2 separate regions of the Homo sapiens genome follow, and region 2 is linked to region 1. A link means that fine-mapping ties the variant in region 1 to the expression of a gene that starts in the linked region. Tissue or cell type: whole blood. Region 1 holds a variant in brackets; the other region holds the start of a gene. All regions are shown on one strand. Distances are from middle to middle.

Evidence for each region. PIP is the estimated chance that this variant, and not a neighbour inherited with it, causes the effect.
Region 2: CYB5R4 starts here. The variant in region 1 is fine-mapped to the expression of CYB5R4 in whole blood (INTERVAL, PIP above 0.99). The same link has a PIP of 0.9 or more in blood mononuclear cells.

The regions. Positions count from the first base shown.
Region 1 is chr6:83,763,413-83,771,036 of GRCh38, forward strand. No RefSeq gene overlaps it. Among named protein-coding and RNA genes, the nearest start is that of SNAP91, 58 kb to the left of the region's middle. The variant C/T (reference allele first, on the strand shown) is at 3,797.
Region 2 is chr6:83,857,714-83,862,713 of GRCh38, forward strand. It overlaps CYB5R4 (cytochrome b5 reductase 4), which reads left to right and starts at 1,976. Exons shown (of 16, transcript NM_016230.4): 1 at 1,976-2,144. The coding sequence starts at 2,070. All of the region lies in intron 3 of RIPPLY2-CYB5R4 (RIPPLY2-CYB5R4 readthrough), which reads left to right. RefSeq lists a silencer at 2,047-2,096.

The DNA.
Region 1 (7,624 bases):
CAGCAGCTAGGAATCAAGAGACCTTGGCCAAATTGCCTCACCTTCTGGGCCCTCAGTTACCTCCTCTGTATATAAGTGGTTCTCAAACCTAGATGCAAATTAGAATCATTTGGGAGCTTTTTAAAAAAATCTATCATTATAGGTTATTTTTGCCTTTCTTTGAACTTAATAAAACAAAATAATACAAAATGTACTTTTTTCTGCTAGCTTTTTAAGTTTAACATCATTTCTGTGAAATTTTCCTTGTTGCATATACTAGTAGTTATTCTTTATTATTGCTGTAAAACATTCATTGTATAAATATGTCATAATTTCTCCATTCTCCTGTTGGTAGTCATTTGGGTTGTTTCTAGTTAGGGGCTATGAATAGAATACTGCTATAAAAATTCTCATCTGTGTCTTATAGTATAAATACATACTCATTTCTTCAGGGTAGGTATCTTATCTTGCCTTATAGTATAAATACATACTCATTTCTTCAGGGTAGGTACCTAGAAGTAGAAATGCTGGATCAAAGGGGTTTGTATATTTATCTTTAATAGCTATTGCCAATCAATTTTCCAAAGAGGTAGTGCTAAACAGCAGCGTATGAGTTCTGGTTGCTCCATATCCTTTCTGACCCTTGGTATCATCATTTTAAAAAATTTCAACCATTCTGGCAGATGTGTCATGATATTTCATTGTGGTTTTAGTTTGCTCTTTCCTACTGGCTATCAATCTTGAGCACTTTCTAAAAGTTCTTATTGAACCTTTAGGTAAAGTTTTTTATGAAGTGCCTGTTTAGAGTTTTTGCCCTCTAAAAATTAGTTTGCTTTTCTTTATTGAGCTTTAGTCGTTCTTTATATATTTTAGATACAAGTCTTTTGTTAAACATATCTATTAAAAAATTATTTTCCCTCTCTGTGACTTTTCATTTAGTTGATACTGTCTCTTGATAAAGAGCATTTATTATTTTAATAAAGTCTAATTTAATGAAATGTAATTTGTTGTGGTTTATGATTAATGTTTTTTGTGTCTTACTTAAGAAATCTTTGCCTTCCCCATGGCCATTAAATATTCTATATTTTCTTCTCAAAACTGTATTATTCTCAAAGCATTTATATTTAGATGTATCTACAATCCATTTGGAATTAGCATAAGTTAAGGCTCAGGTTTCATTTTTCCATATGCATATCTAATAATTTATTAAAAATATTTTTTGCATTTAAGTTCATGAGATATATGGGGTTATAATTCACTGTTCTTATAATGTCTTTGCCAGTTTTTTTAAATCTGGATTATGCTGGCCTCATAAACAAGTTTGGAAATGTTTCCTGTTTCTCCATACTCACAGAGTTTATGTAAGAGTAGTGTTATTCCTTCTTTAAACATTCAGAAAAATTCACCAGTGAAGCCATCTGGTCAGTTTCCAAAATCAAAGTCTTGGTGGGTTTCTGGAATAGCCTTCTAGTTATTCTCTAGCCTGTGTATGCCCCCCACCCCACCCCCACAATTTTTTTTTGCTTATTTGATCAGTTATGAAGTCGTTTTAAAGTACAAAAGAGGAATTAAATATCATTGCAAAAGATTTTCTGAGAGTATTCACACTAATTCCCCAGAGGAAATTCTAGTTATGGTTTAGAAAACTAGGAATCGTGTCATTTCTCCATTTAAGTGGATTTAAGTGCATTTAAGTGGATGGAAATGGGGAAATAATAGTGTGTAGGTGTGATAAGTGTTCTTTCCTTTTTGTACCAAACAAAATAGGAGAGCTGTGTCTGTGATCTAAGGATGTATTTGCTTATTTGTTAGATTTCTAAAAATGTGCTGCTGGGTATTTATAAAAATAAGCATTGTAATTAAACAAACTAAATGGTATGGCTCTGTTGAACTGTGAGTTTTGTTTTCACACAGAAATGACTGCAGTCCTATTTAGGGGAGGGGTAGAGAATAAATGAGTAGGTTGTCCAGGTAACAAATATTACCACTGTCTGGGAAAAATGACTGCCTCCATTAACTTAGCAGTATATGAAGTGACTTTGAAAGGATTAGCTACTGCAGCAGGTTGGAATTTTATAGAGACTCAATCTCTGTCTCCCTCACTTTTTCCCTCCGCCCCAGCTTTGACCTTCCATACTTACATTCCGGCTCCTTTGACCTCCCTGACTCCCACAGTCTTGCCAACACAGCTTAACTACATGCAGAAGAACACCCATCTCCCAACAAAATCCCCACAAAAACTCGAATGAAAACTAGATGGTAAAATAATTCAAATGGGCAGAAAATAAGACCAATAAAGTCTGTCTGAAGCGGTGTGATATGGTTTGGCTGTGTCCCCACCCAAATCTCAGCTTGAATTATCATTCCCATAATTCCTACATGTCATGGGAATTGTCCCTGTGGGAGGTAATTTAATCGTGGGGGCGGGTCTTTCCCACACTGTTTTCCTGTTAGTGAATAAGAGATCTGATGGTTTTATAAAGGGGAGTTCCCCTGCACACGCAATCCTGCCTGTGGCCATGTAAGATGTGCCTTTCTCCTCTTTCGCTTTCTGCCATGATTGTGAGGCCTCCCCAGCTATGTGACACTGTGAGTCCATTAAACCTCTTTTTCTTTATAAATTACCCAGTTTAGGGTATGTCTTTATTAGCAGCGTAAGAATAGACTAATGCAAGATGCTATAATGTTTCATTTGGGGTTGTTTAGAACTAGATGTGGGCCTTGGAGTGTGAGCTCCCTGGGGACTGAGGAGATCCTAGGAGTTAGAAAAAAATCATTGGAAAAATTGAAAGCAAACTTGAGAGTTTTTAGAGAAGGTTTCAAAACATGAAGAAGTAGTTACAACATAAATAACTTTGAGCCTCTGAACCAGGGATATGTAATTGGTGATAATTTTATGAACAAAGTTGATAAACGTTGTTAAAAAGTTTAACAATTTAACAAATTGTTAAACTGTAACAAAAAGTTACAGTTGAAATAGATTTAAGCAATGAAATGAATATGACCTGGAAATGGGGGTGAACCTGTAGCTCAAAGAGAAGAAATTTCGCTTTCCTATTAATAAGGAGGCTGGGAGAATTGGTTCTGATTTTCAAGGAAGATGCAAGTACACAGAAATTAGGAAAGGGCCTATGAAACTGCCATAAAATGCCATCACATTTGTCGACTTATGCCAAAAATAATGTATCGCTCCAAACTCATGAGGCTGTAACTCACGTGCTTTACAGGTAGTAAAATGTTTGTGCATCCCATACAACTGACTAAAGAAATGGGGAAAGGACAGTGTGAGAACACGAAGGATCATGCTCCAAGGAAACAGTCTCGTCAGGGGAATCTTCTGGTCTACTGGGTGTTAGACATAGAAGGTAAACTAGGTGAAACTGCTGAAAGCCTTTTTGCAGCTGTATTTTGCCATCTTATATGGCTGTGACATAGCAGCCAAGACAAAGATTGTTTACCTAGCTTCAAAGAAAGTCCAATTTGGTTGGCTGCAAGAATTCCATGTGTAACCTTGTGTAAGTGTTTTGACCTCTAGGGCATGATTTACAGCTTTGCCTTTTTTGTAGTCTTTGCATTGCCTCAGCCCAATAGGAATCCCCTGGGCCCTGATGTCAGCAGTCTAGGATTTTCAGACAAACAAGTGTTTCTTGGCTGTCACGAACCATGTTAAATTGTTCCCAACTGCGCTTCTGTGAAACCATGAAGCATTATATCAGACCATTAGATGTACTGATCCTCTGTCCCACCCCATCTTGCTTGCTGGTCTCTATGAAGCTGGTACTGATGTGCTCAGCTATTGTTCTTCCTACTGTGCCTT[C/T]CCTGTTGGGTAACCTGAATTCACAGTTTCACTTCCTTTCCAGAAACGAACCAGAAATATTTTGTTCATTTGTGGTGAATGAAGTGCCTGACGAGAAAGAGGAATGTAGCTTAATTCCAGTGTTGAATGTGGCTCTTGAGGCCAGTATATGCTAAAACTCAGAATAAGGATCCCTTTCCAATTCTTTCTCTCTTCTCATCCTTTGTGGTTAGTTATACTAGAGACAAATCAGTTGGCAGGGAGTCATTAAGGCTGGAGATTAAGCTACACTTCTAGGCAGGAGGATAACTGCTAATGACCCTCTAAATTCCACTTTTCTAGCCCTAAACACTAATTATTTTAAATATTTACTGTTTCATATATATTTACTGTTTAATATTAAATATTTACTGTTTAAAATATAATTATTTTAAAATAAAATTATTGTTTTGCTGCTTGCATGCTGGCAAGTGAAAGCACATCTAGGAGATCATGCAGGTGAGATGGGCCAGAGGGACCTCCAAAAGAAAATAGCCCAAGTTACATGTGTCCCTACCTTTGCTGTTGACCATAGACAGTGAAATCTATAAATCTGTGTGGAGCCTTCTCTGATTCTTGCAGAGTTTGGGCTCACACTGAGTTCATTAAAGCCTTGCTGATGGGCTCATTTTTTGCTAATCCCACTGTAGTTATATTTTTCTACCCTGCTCTTCTGCCTCAAAGCTACAGAAAGTGCTTGGGTGTCATGGAGGGGTTGCTCTTTGATCACTCTCTTCTCTTTGTCTATAGTAGGAAATTAACAAATGTTGACTGAATGTGCGAGTGAGTGAATGTTAGGGATTTCTGGACAATATCAGTCAAGGGAATGTGAAAGAGCAGAGCAGCCAAGGAAGGAAAATAGGGCTTGGAAGAATGGACTGGAAGACAGGTCCAACGGTAAACAGATTTGAGGAATACAAATGGATAAGGTTTTGTAAGGAGGGTTAGCAAGTTTGTAAAACAGTGCTCCCTAGATGCTAAAAATGAAGCCGTAACCTCTCCCAGCTTCTTCTCATCTGCTTGTGCACACCAATGGTAAGACATAGGGAAGAAGAAGTAGGTATTTGACTAGTACTTGTGTTGGGGGTGGGCTTAGAAAGTATTCAAGGGGGTAAAGCCACCAGACCTCTAGTCACTCTTCCTTTCACATCTTGAGTTTGTATGCATTGATTCTCTTTCCTTAGGACTTCTCAAGTCCATCTCTTCTCCATTCCGATGGCATGCCTTAATTCCAATCCTCACGTCATTTCTTACCTTGAAGCCTAGAGTGATCTTCTAATTCATTTCTTAGACTTCAGTAGTACCCGTCCAATCCACTGCCAACACTGCTACCAGAGAGATCTTTATAAAACAAAAATCCAATTGTATTACTGCCTTACTGAAAATTATTTAGTGGTCACATTGTCCTCCAAACTTGGGGGCTGCAAGACACTTTATGATCTTCCCTCACCTACCTCTTCAGCCTATTTCTTGCCAGGCCCCTAGCATTGCTGAACCACCTGCAGTCCCAGGGATTTACAGTGAATTTCTAACCTCTGTTCCTTTCTACAAATGGCTCCATCTGCCAGGAATCCTCTGTGTTCTTCCTCTTCATCTTTGCCAACCTCCTACTCCCATCACTGAGGTGACTCTTACTTATTCTTTTAGACATTGTTCAGGCATCATCTTACCTGAGAAGTCTCTCTGGAATCCCCATCTTCCTTTCCTCTCCTGGATGATTAGCTTCTTGAAAGTAGAGACTGAGGCTAGAATAGTAATGGGTACGTGGTGGGTATTCAGTAGCTATTTGAAAAAAGAAATGAGAGAAAAATAGAAGACTATACTGAGATATTGATCATTGCCTGCCCTGCTCATAGCCCTTTCTGTATCCATGTGATCCTATCCCTCAGCCTGAGTGGATTAGGACCATCAATGGCCTGGCTTGAAAAGACCAGCTGAGCCAATCAGATTTATTTATTGGTATTTTGGAGTTGGGGAATGAGAAACTGAGTGAATTAGAAAAGACAACTGGAGTTGAAGGTATGATGTAGAGTCAGGATATAGAGGCATGGTGGAAATGGAAATTATAGGAAGAAGAAGTTAGTTAATAGATGCGAATTGAGCAAATGCACACAGAAAAACAAAGATGTCATGAGAGAAAGGTCATATGAGAGACAGAGAGAGAGAGAGAGAGAGAGAGAGAGAGAGAATCTTCTGTTGTTCCTAACACTTTTTCTTGGGTGGGTTCCTGCAAAATCTGTTTTGTTTTGGGGGGTGATTTTTTTTTTTTGACAGTGTCTCACTTTGTCACCCAGGCTGGAGTGCAGTGAGCCATCTTGGCTCACTGCAGCCTTGACCTCACAGGCTGGAGTGATCCTCCTGCTTCAGCCTGCTAACTAGCTGGGACTACAGACACACGCCACCACACCCAGCTAAGTTTTGAATTTTTTGTAGAGGTGGAGTTTTGCCATGTTGCCCAGGCTGGTCTCCTGGACTCAAGGGATCTGCCTGCCTCAGCCTCTCAAAGTGCTTCTATTACAGATTTGAGCCACTGCAGCTGGCCTTTTTTTTTTTTTTTTCCCTTCTTCTTCTTTTTGAGTCAGGGTCTCACTCTGTCGCCCAGGCTGGAGTGCAGTGGCCTGATCTCAGCTCACTGCAACCTGCAACTCCATGGCTCAAGCAATTCTCCAGCCTCAGCCTCCTGAGTAGCTGAGACCACAGGCACATGCCACCATACTGAGGTAAAATCTCTGGATTTTAACATTAAATCATTATGGGAACTAATATGAGCAAATTTCTGTTCTGAGTATGTAAAGGAGTCTAAACTGAAATAGCAAGAGAAGAGAGAAAGGGAGAGAGGAAGAGAAGAGGGAAAGAAAAGAGCAAATAAGGCTGGTTCTAGACCACCAACTTCCCTTTTCCCCTAGGCTTCTGTTTGCTTGGGATTTACTCCATGCCAGAAAGGAACAAGGAAACCCATTCCCTCTCCACTAGCCCTGACCAGGGAGGAAGTCTGCCCAGGGTTTGACATCCATAATTTCTCCATGCCTATGGGCCCACCTTGGTCACTCACTGCTCCATAGCATTGTCATTGTGAATTATGCACAAATAAACAGAGGTCTGAAGAAACACCATAAATCCCTGGTGCTAACATAAAGAAATTAATTAAGAAAGTTAAAAATGTTAAATATCTTATTGAACCCCAAACACAGTTCACAAAAACAAAACTTCAGTAACAAAAAAAAATTCGGTCAAAGATATATTTTTGATCTTAAGAAATTGATTAATAAATGTTTTTAAAAATATGCATGAATTAAATATCAATGCTATCAAAAAAAGTTGCAAAATAAATGAGAGACAAAAATTATTTTGTTTCTAGTTATGTATCTGAACAATTGTTTTATTGGTTGCTTGTTTGGTTGAAACTTAATAATTTATTATGCAAAATGGACATGAGGATTTATAATGCCAAGAAATAGAACTCTGTTTTGCTCTTTTTTGGATTTCTCAAAAGGAATACCTTGAAAGAATGTCTTATAAGGGTGTTCAAAATATTCTGAGCTACTTATTGGTAAACAAAAATTTATATACTTGGATGAGATGCCAAAAAATTGAAAAAAATGAAGTCATATTTTTTCTTGTAGTGGGAAGTATGGCTAATATTTTAATACATGTATAGGCATTTATCATAATTGCTTGTTAGATATTTAATACATTTATCATAACATAAAAATGTATGATAAAGTGTTAGATGCTGGCACAAATTCATTAATTCTGTGTGATAGGTGTCATGGAAAGACTTTCTTGGAAAAAAAAATTCTTCAAAGCATA
Region 2 (5,000 bases), 93 kb after region 1:
TGAATCTTTTAACATCTGCTATTTCCTACTGATGCCAGTTGGATGTTGTAGTTACATATCAATGTTATCTTATTAGATAATGAAGAAAATAGACTTATGTTAGAAATCACTCATTTATTAGTAAAGATTTCTTAGCAGATGGAGAAAAACACATTAAATCATTACCTGTAATTGAAAAAGGGAATCAATCTTAGGGCTTTTAAATTATAGATATTTTAAATAAATGATGAGCAAAGTAACTCATATTTTAATACTCCTCTTCAGTCCTTAAATCCAGTAGTAAAATAGTATGGATGTTTAATACTTAATGTACTACATTGAGGGATCCCTAGAATTAAAACAAAACGTTTAAATTTGAGTGATTGATATGGAGTCTAAAAAAGTGGAGTCTAAAGGCCAGAAGTTGATAGCATCTTCCATTTCTGTACAAAGGGGAGCTAAGAAATTTGGAAAGCATGGAACATTCTTCAACAATATTAACTTTTCCTTGCTCTGGTTCTCTGCTTTTGATATTCTTATGTAAAAGTTTTCTCACGAGAAGTGAAATAAATCTCAGTGATTAGTTTTTCTTGTGTAGACTCTAGAAGAATATGTCATCATTTAATGAGAGAGAACACAGAAGCAATTTGCAAAGTCAAAGTAATACAGTTAATTATAGTCATGAGGTTCTTTTAGCTCAAATTCAGTCTTCTCATAATAAGCATTTCAATTGCAAATAAAAATGGATAGAGGTGAATGTCATAGGTGGCTACCTTATTTGAATGCTTGTATTTGAATGGCCACATATAGTCACACACTTTTTCTTCTGATTCTGCAAACATAACCTTGATTTTTTAGGCACTTTAAGAACTAAGTAGTTAAACAGAGAAAGTTTAAAGCATGACAATATGTTCAGAGTTAGGAAAAATTAGTAATTAAAGGAGGATGGGGAGGATTATTTAGAACTATGTTTCTTCTCCTGAAAACTTTCTCCCTTATTGGATTCTACTCTCAAGATCTATGTGTTCCCCAAGGGACACACAAAACAATCAATCAAACAAACAAAAACCATCAGATTTTGAGCATTAGAGCCTGGTGTTTACCTGCACAGTGTTGGTCCTTTTCCCATTAATATGTTGGAATAGCACAAACAGCCACTGCCACTTATTCAGTACCTAATATTAATCAGGCACTGCAGTATGTAGTTTACACATGATCCTTTAATCTTTAATAAACCCATTATGCAGATGGGGAAAATGAGACTTTGAGATACTAAAGTAACTTGCATAAGACAGCTCAGTCATTAAGTGCAGGGATGGCATGCAAACCAAATCTGACTTTTAAACGTTACTTCATCACCACAGCTGGAGGTGAGCTGCATCAGTACACAATTCCCAGTGAAGACAGGAAGTTACATAAGGAGGGAGAATTTGTGAGTGGGTGAATAGAGCAGAAGGTGACTTTACTAACGTCTTTCGCGCATTCATTAGCCCTCAGCATGCTTAAAGGTGAAGTTTAAGGATGATTAAAGGTGAGGTTTTCTTCTTACCCCACAGTAGTGGCTGTTGACATTTGATATTTTTGCTCTTAAAGGTGTGAGATGCTCTTTGCATTACAGCCTAGTGCCTTACAGGAAAGAATTTCAGAGAAACTAAAATTCGTTTTAGTCCATATTTCAAGTAGTGTGTTTTAGTCCATATTTCAAGTAGTGTGATGGTACTGCTTAACAATGAACAGACATTGCTGTTCCGGGTTAACAGGACTAAGAATTTGTTCCCACATTCGGTCAGCACCAAGGCTAAGGAACAGCTTCACTCTCTAATCTTTCCACGAAATAGCTGTCACCTTGCTCCGGTGCTGAAGTTCGGGATGCGGAACTAGCTGAGCATGCGTACTTCCTCCCTGCCGGCCCTCCCTCCGTCCCGTTGGCTCCGCCCTCCGCGGACGTGCTGCGTCAGAATGCGCCTCACCCCTGGCGACCCCGGAAGTGGGTCGGGGGCTTGGCCTCTGCCCGGCCACAGAGCCGGAGCTGGAGGTGCTGTCCCGTCTGGCGGCGATCCCCGGGCAGGGCCCGGGGCCGGGGTTTGAAGATGCTGAACGTCCCTTCCCAGTCTTTCCCGGCCCCCAGGTCGCAGCAGCGTGTCGCCTCCGGGGGGCGTAGCAAGGTAAGCGGGTGGCTCCGTGAGTCTCTCCCCTCGCTGCGTTTCGAGCTCTGGCAGTGTGTTCTCTTCTTCCGCCCCAACTCCCAGCTCCTGCACCCCTCTCTAAGCTGTCGTTCCCTGCTGTCCTTGCCTGCAACCTCTTTCTGATCCCACTTTGTCTACAGTCCCTAAACTCTCCTTACCTCCTCCCTTTCCCCTAGCAGTCCCTCTTCTTTCTGGTCCTTTATCCCGCTCTATCCGTTCCCTTCCTCCAAGTCCTTTCCCGCGATTTAAATTTATATGACAGAGCCAGGCACTGTGTTTGCGGTATTATAGGCTCTCGGTATTAGCCGCCTTCCCTCAACCTCATCTTCTCCCTGGTCTTTTGTTCTTCACTGCCTGAAGGAGTTGTACCACATCACTCGATGTGGGTTCCCTCGCAGGAGGGAAAGGCTTGGCAGTGGCGACAGTGACCGTCCGTGCAAGGATGGGGACTTCTGGAGTTGGGGAGCTAGGTCAGGTTTACAGACACTATCCAAGACATACTGCCTTTCTTTCTTCCTCTGGTACCTGATTGTTTTGTCATTGCCTTTTCTACTAGTATCACTTGCTAACTTCGAAGCAAATATAATAATACTCTTGAGTTCTTGTTGAGCACAGTTGCTGTTAGCAACAGGTGGAATACTGTACAGATATATTTTATATTTGCAGAATTCAATAAAAATTGTGTTCTTTGTTCTTTTGCGAATGTTGTTTGTTCCTATTTGTTAGTTCCTCATTCTGTAACCATATCTTTATCTTTCGTTTGTGACACTTCCACTTAACTTGGGCCACTCGGTTAACTCTTGAGTCTTAGCATCGTTTGGAACCCTTATCGATTTTCTTATTTTTCTCCACTTAGACCTGGCGTTCTGATTCTAGTTCAGAATGAATATAGGTTCAGGGATCTGTGGTTTTCATTAGCTTTCCAGAGATTTCTTAAGTACTTACGGGTGGCCGTGTATATTCTCAGTGCTTTGCATGTATTAACTTTAATTTTCACAATTATCCTTTGAAGTGAAAGCTTTTATTGTCTCTATTTCGCAGAAAAGGAAACTGGCTAAGAAATATTGCCCTAAATTGCGTAGGCTTGTGTTGTGGTTCTGCTGTGAAATTTCATTTACTGATTCATATATCAATCATCTAGCCATCCAATCATGTATATTTTTCTCATTGGTTTTTGACCTATTTCTTGAAGCTAAATACTTGACTGAATAACAGTCTTTCCAGAAAGAATCTCTGAATTAGAATATGAGTTACTGCCCTTCTTCGTTAAAAATACCAACTGTGTTCTTAGCATCCATTTAAAGGAGAAAACTTAGAAGCAAAGACAAAAAGTCACACAGGGGGCGATGGCAAAGGTGAGTTTTTGGTCCAAAAAGAGAACAAAATAAGATTATTGTGCAATTCTAAGGAAAAGTCAGACTCCAGTCTTCTTCCTCTTTTCTTTGTGAAACAAGATGATGCTGAGAATGTAAAAACTGAGTCAGGTTTGGATGAAATGGGTAGAGGTTGAGAAAATAGAACCAAGTTGGGAAGGTCGTGTATTATACAAAAGGTTCTCAAATAGTGTTGTTTCATTCAACAGCATTTAGTTATAATATTGATGAGAAAAAAAATTCGTTTTGGCCAGGGCCACTGTCTTTGGAGTTTGCATGCTCTGTGTCTGCGTGGGTTTTCTCTGGGTACTCTGGTTTCCTGCTACAGCCCAAAGATATGCAAGTTAGGTTAATTGGTGTGTCTAAATGGTCCCAGTCTGTGTGAATATTGGGTGTGTATGAGTGTGCCTTGCCATAGGATGGCATCCTGTCCAAGGTCGGTTCCTGCCTTGTGCCCTGAGCTACTGGGATAGGCTCTGACTACCTGTGACATTGAACTGGAATAGTTGGGTAAATAATTATCTTACTTGTTTTTTAATTAATCTTTCTTAAATGTATATATAGCTAACATTTCTTTCAGTGTTTAATATTAGAAGTATTTTGGTCTTTATTTAGAAGTCTGGTGATGTTTTTGTGACCAGAAATATGCTGCAGGAAATTTTGTTTGTCAATTAACCCACGGTAAAATTAGTTTCGTTGTACATAGTTTAGTTTCCAAGCACCTAGTGACTAGCTTAAGTGAAGGCTTATTGTAATTTTTTAAAGGCACAGATTTTGAAGTGAGAAAGACCTAGATTCTTTCACCATATCTGCCAGTTAATCTCTTTGAGTCTGTTTCCTCAGATGTAAATGAGAATAACAGTACCCATTTTATAGGATTGTTCATAGGATTCAATGAGATAATGTTTCTCTTAGCACAGCCTTGGTAAGCACCCAGTAAATGCTACTTGTCCTGAGGCTTTTATTCAGATCTCACAGACTTGAGTGTGACACAGAATATGCACTCAACATATGATAGTTATTATTTCTATTAATACTGGTAAACAAATACTTATTGAGAACCTACCATATGCTGGAGTTTTTGGTCTCTGATTTCAAGGTGTTTAGTCTCATAGGTTGCATGAAATAGTGAACATTCAGTTATAAAGTCATAAGTACTACAACAGGGTGGTATGACCACTAAGGAGTTGAGGATCAGAGAAGCCTTCCAGAGGAATTAATGGGAGTTGGAGTGAGGTTGATCCATGCAGGGAAAGCAACACTACTATAAGCAAGTACTTGACAGCAATAAAGGAATCAAATAATCAGTTCCCATTTGGCTAAAGTATATAATGGAAAGGAGCAAAAGTTAGAACATGGAGCTAGTACAGTCAACTGTGACCAGATTGTGAAGACCTGGTAAATCCCTAGGGAATTTAGAGACGTTGTTGTAAGGTGACCTGAGGAGCCACTGAAGGAGGGA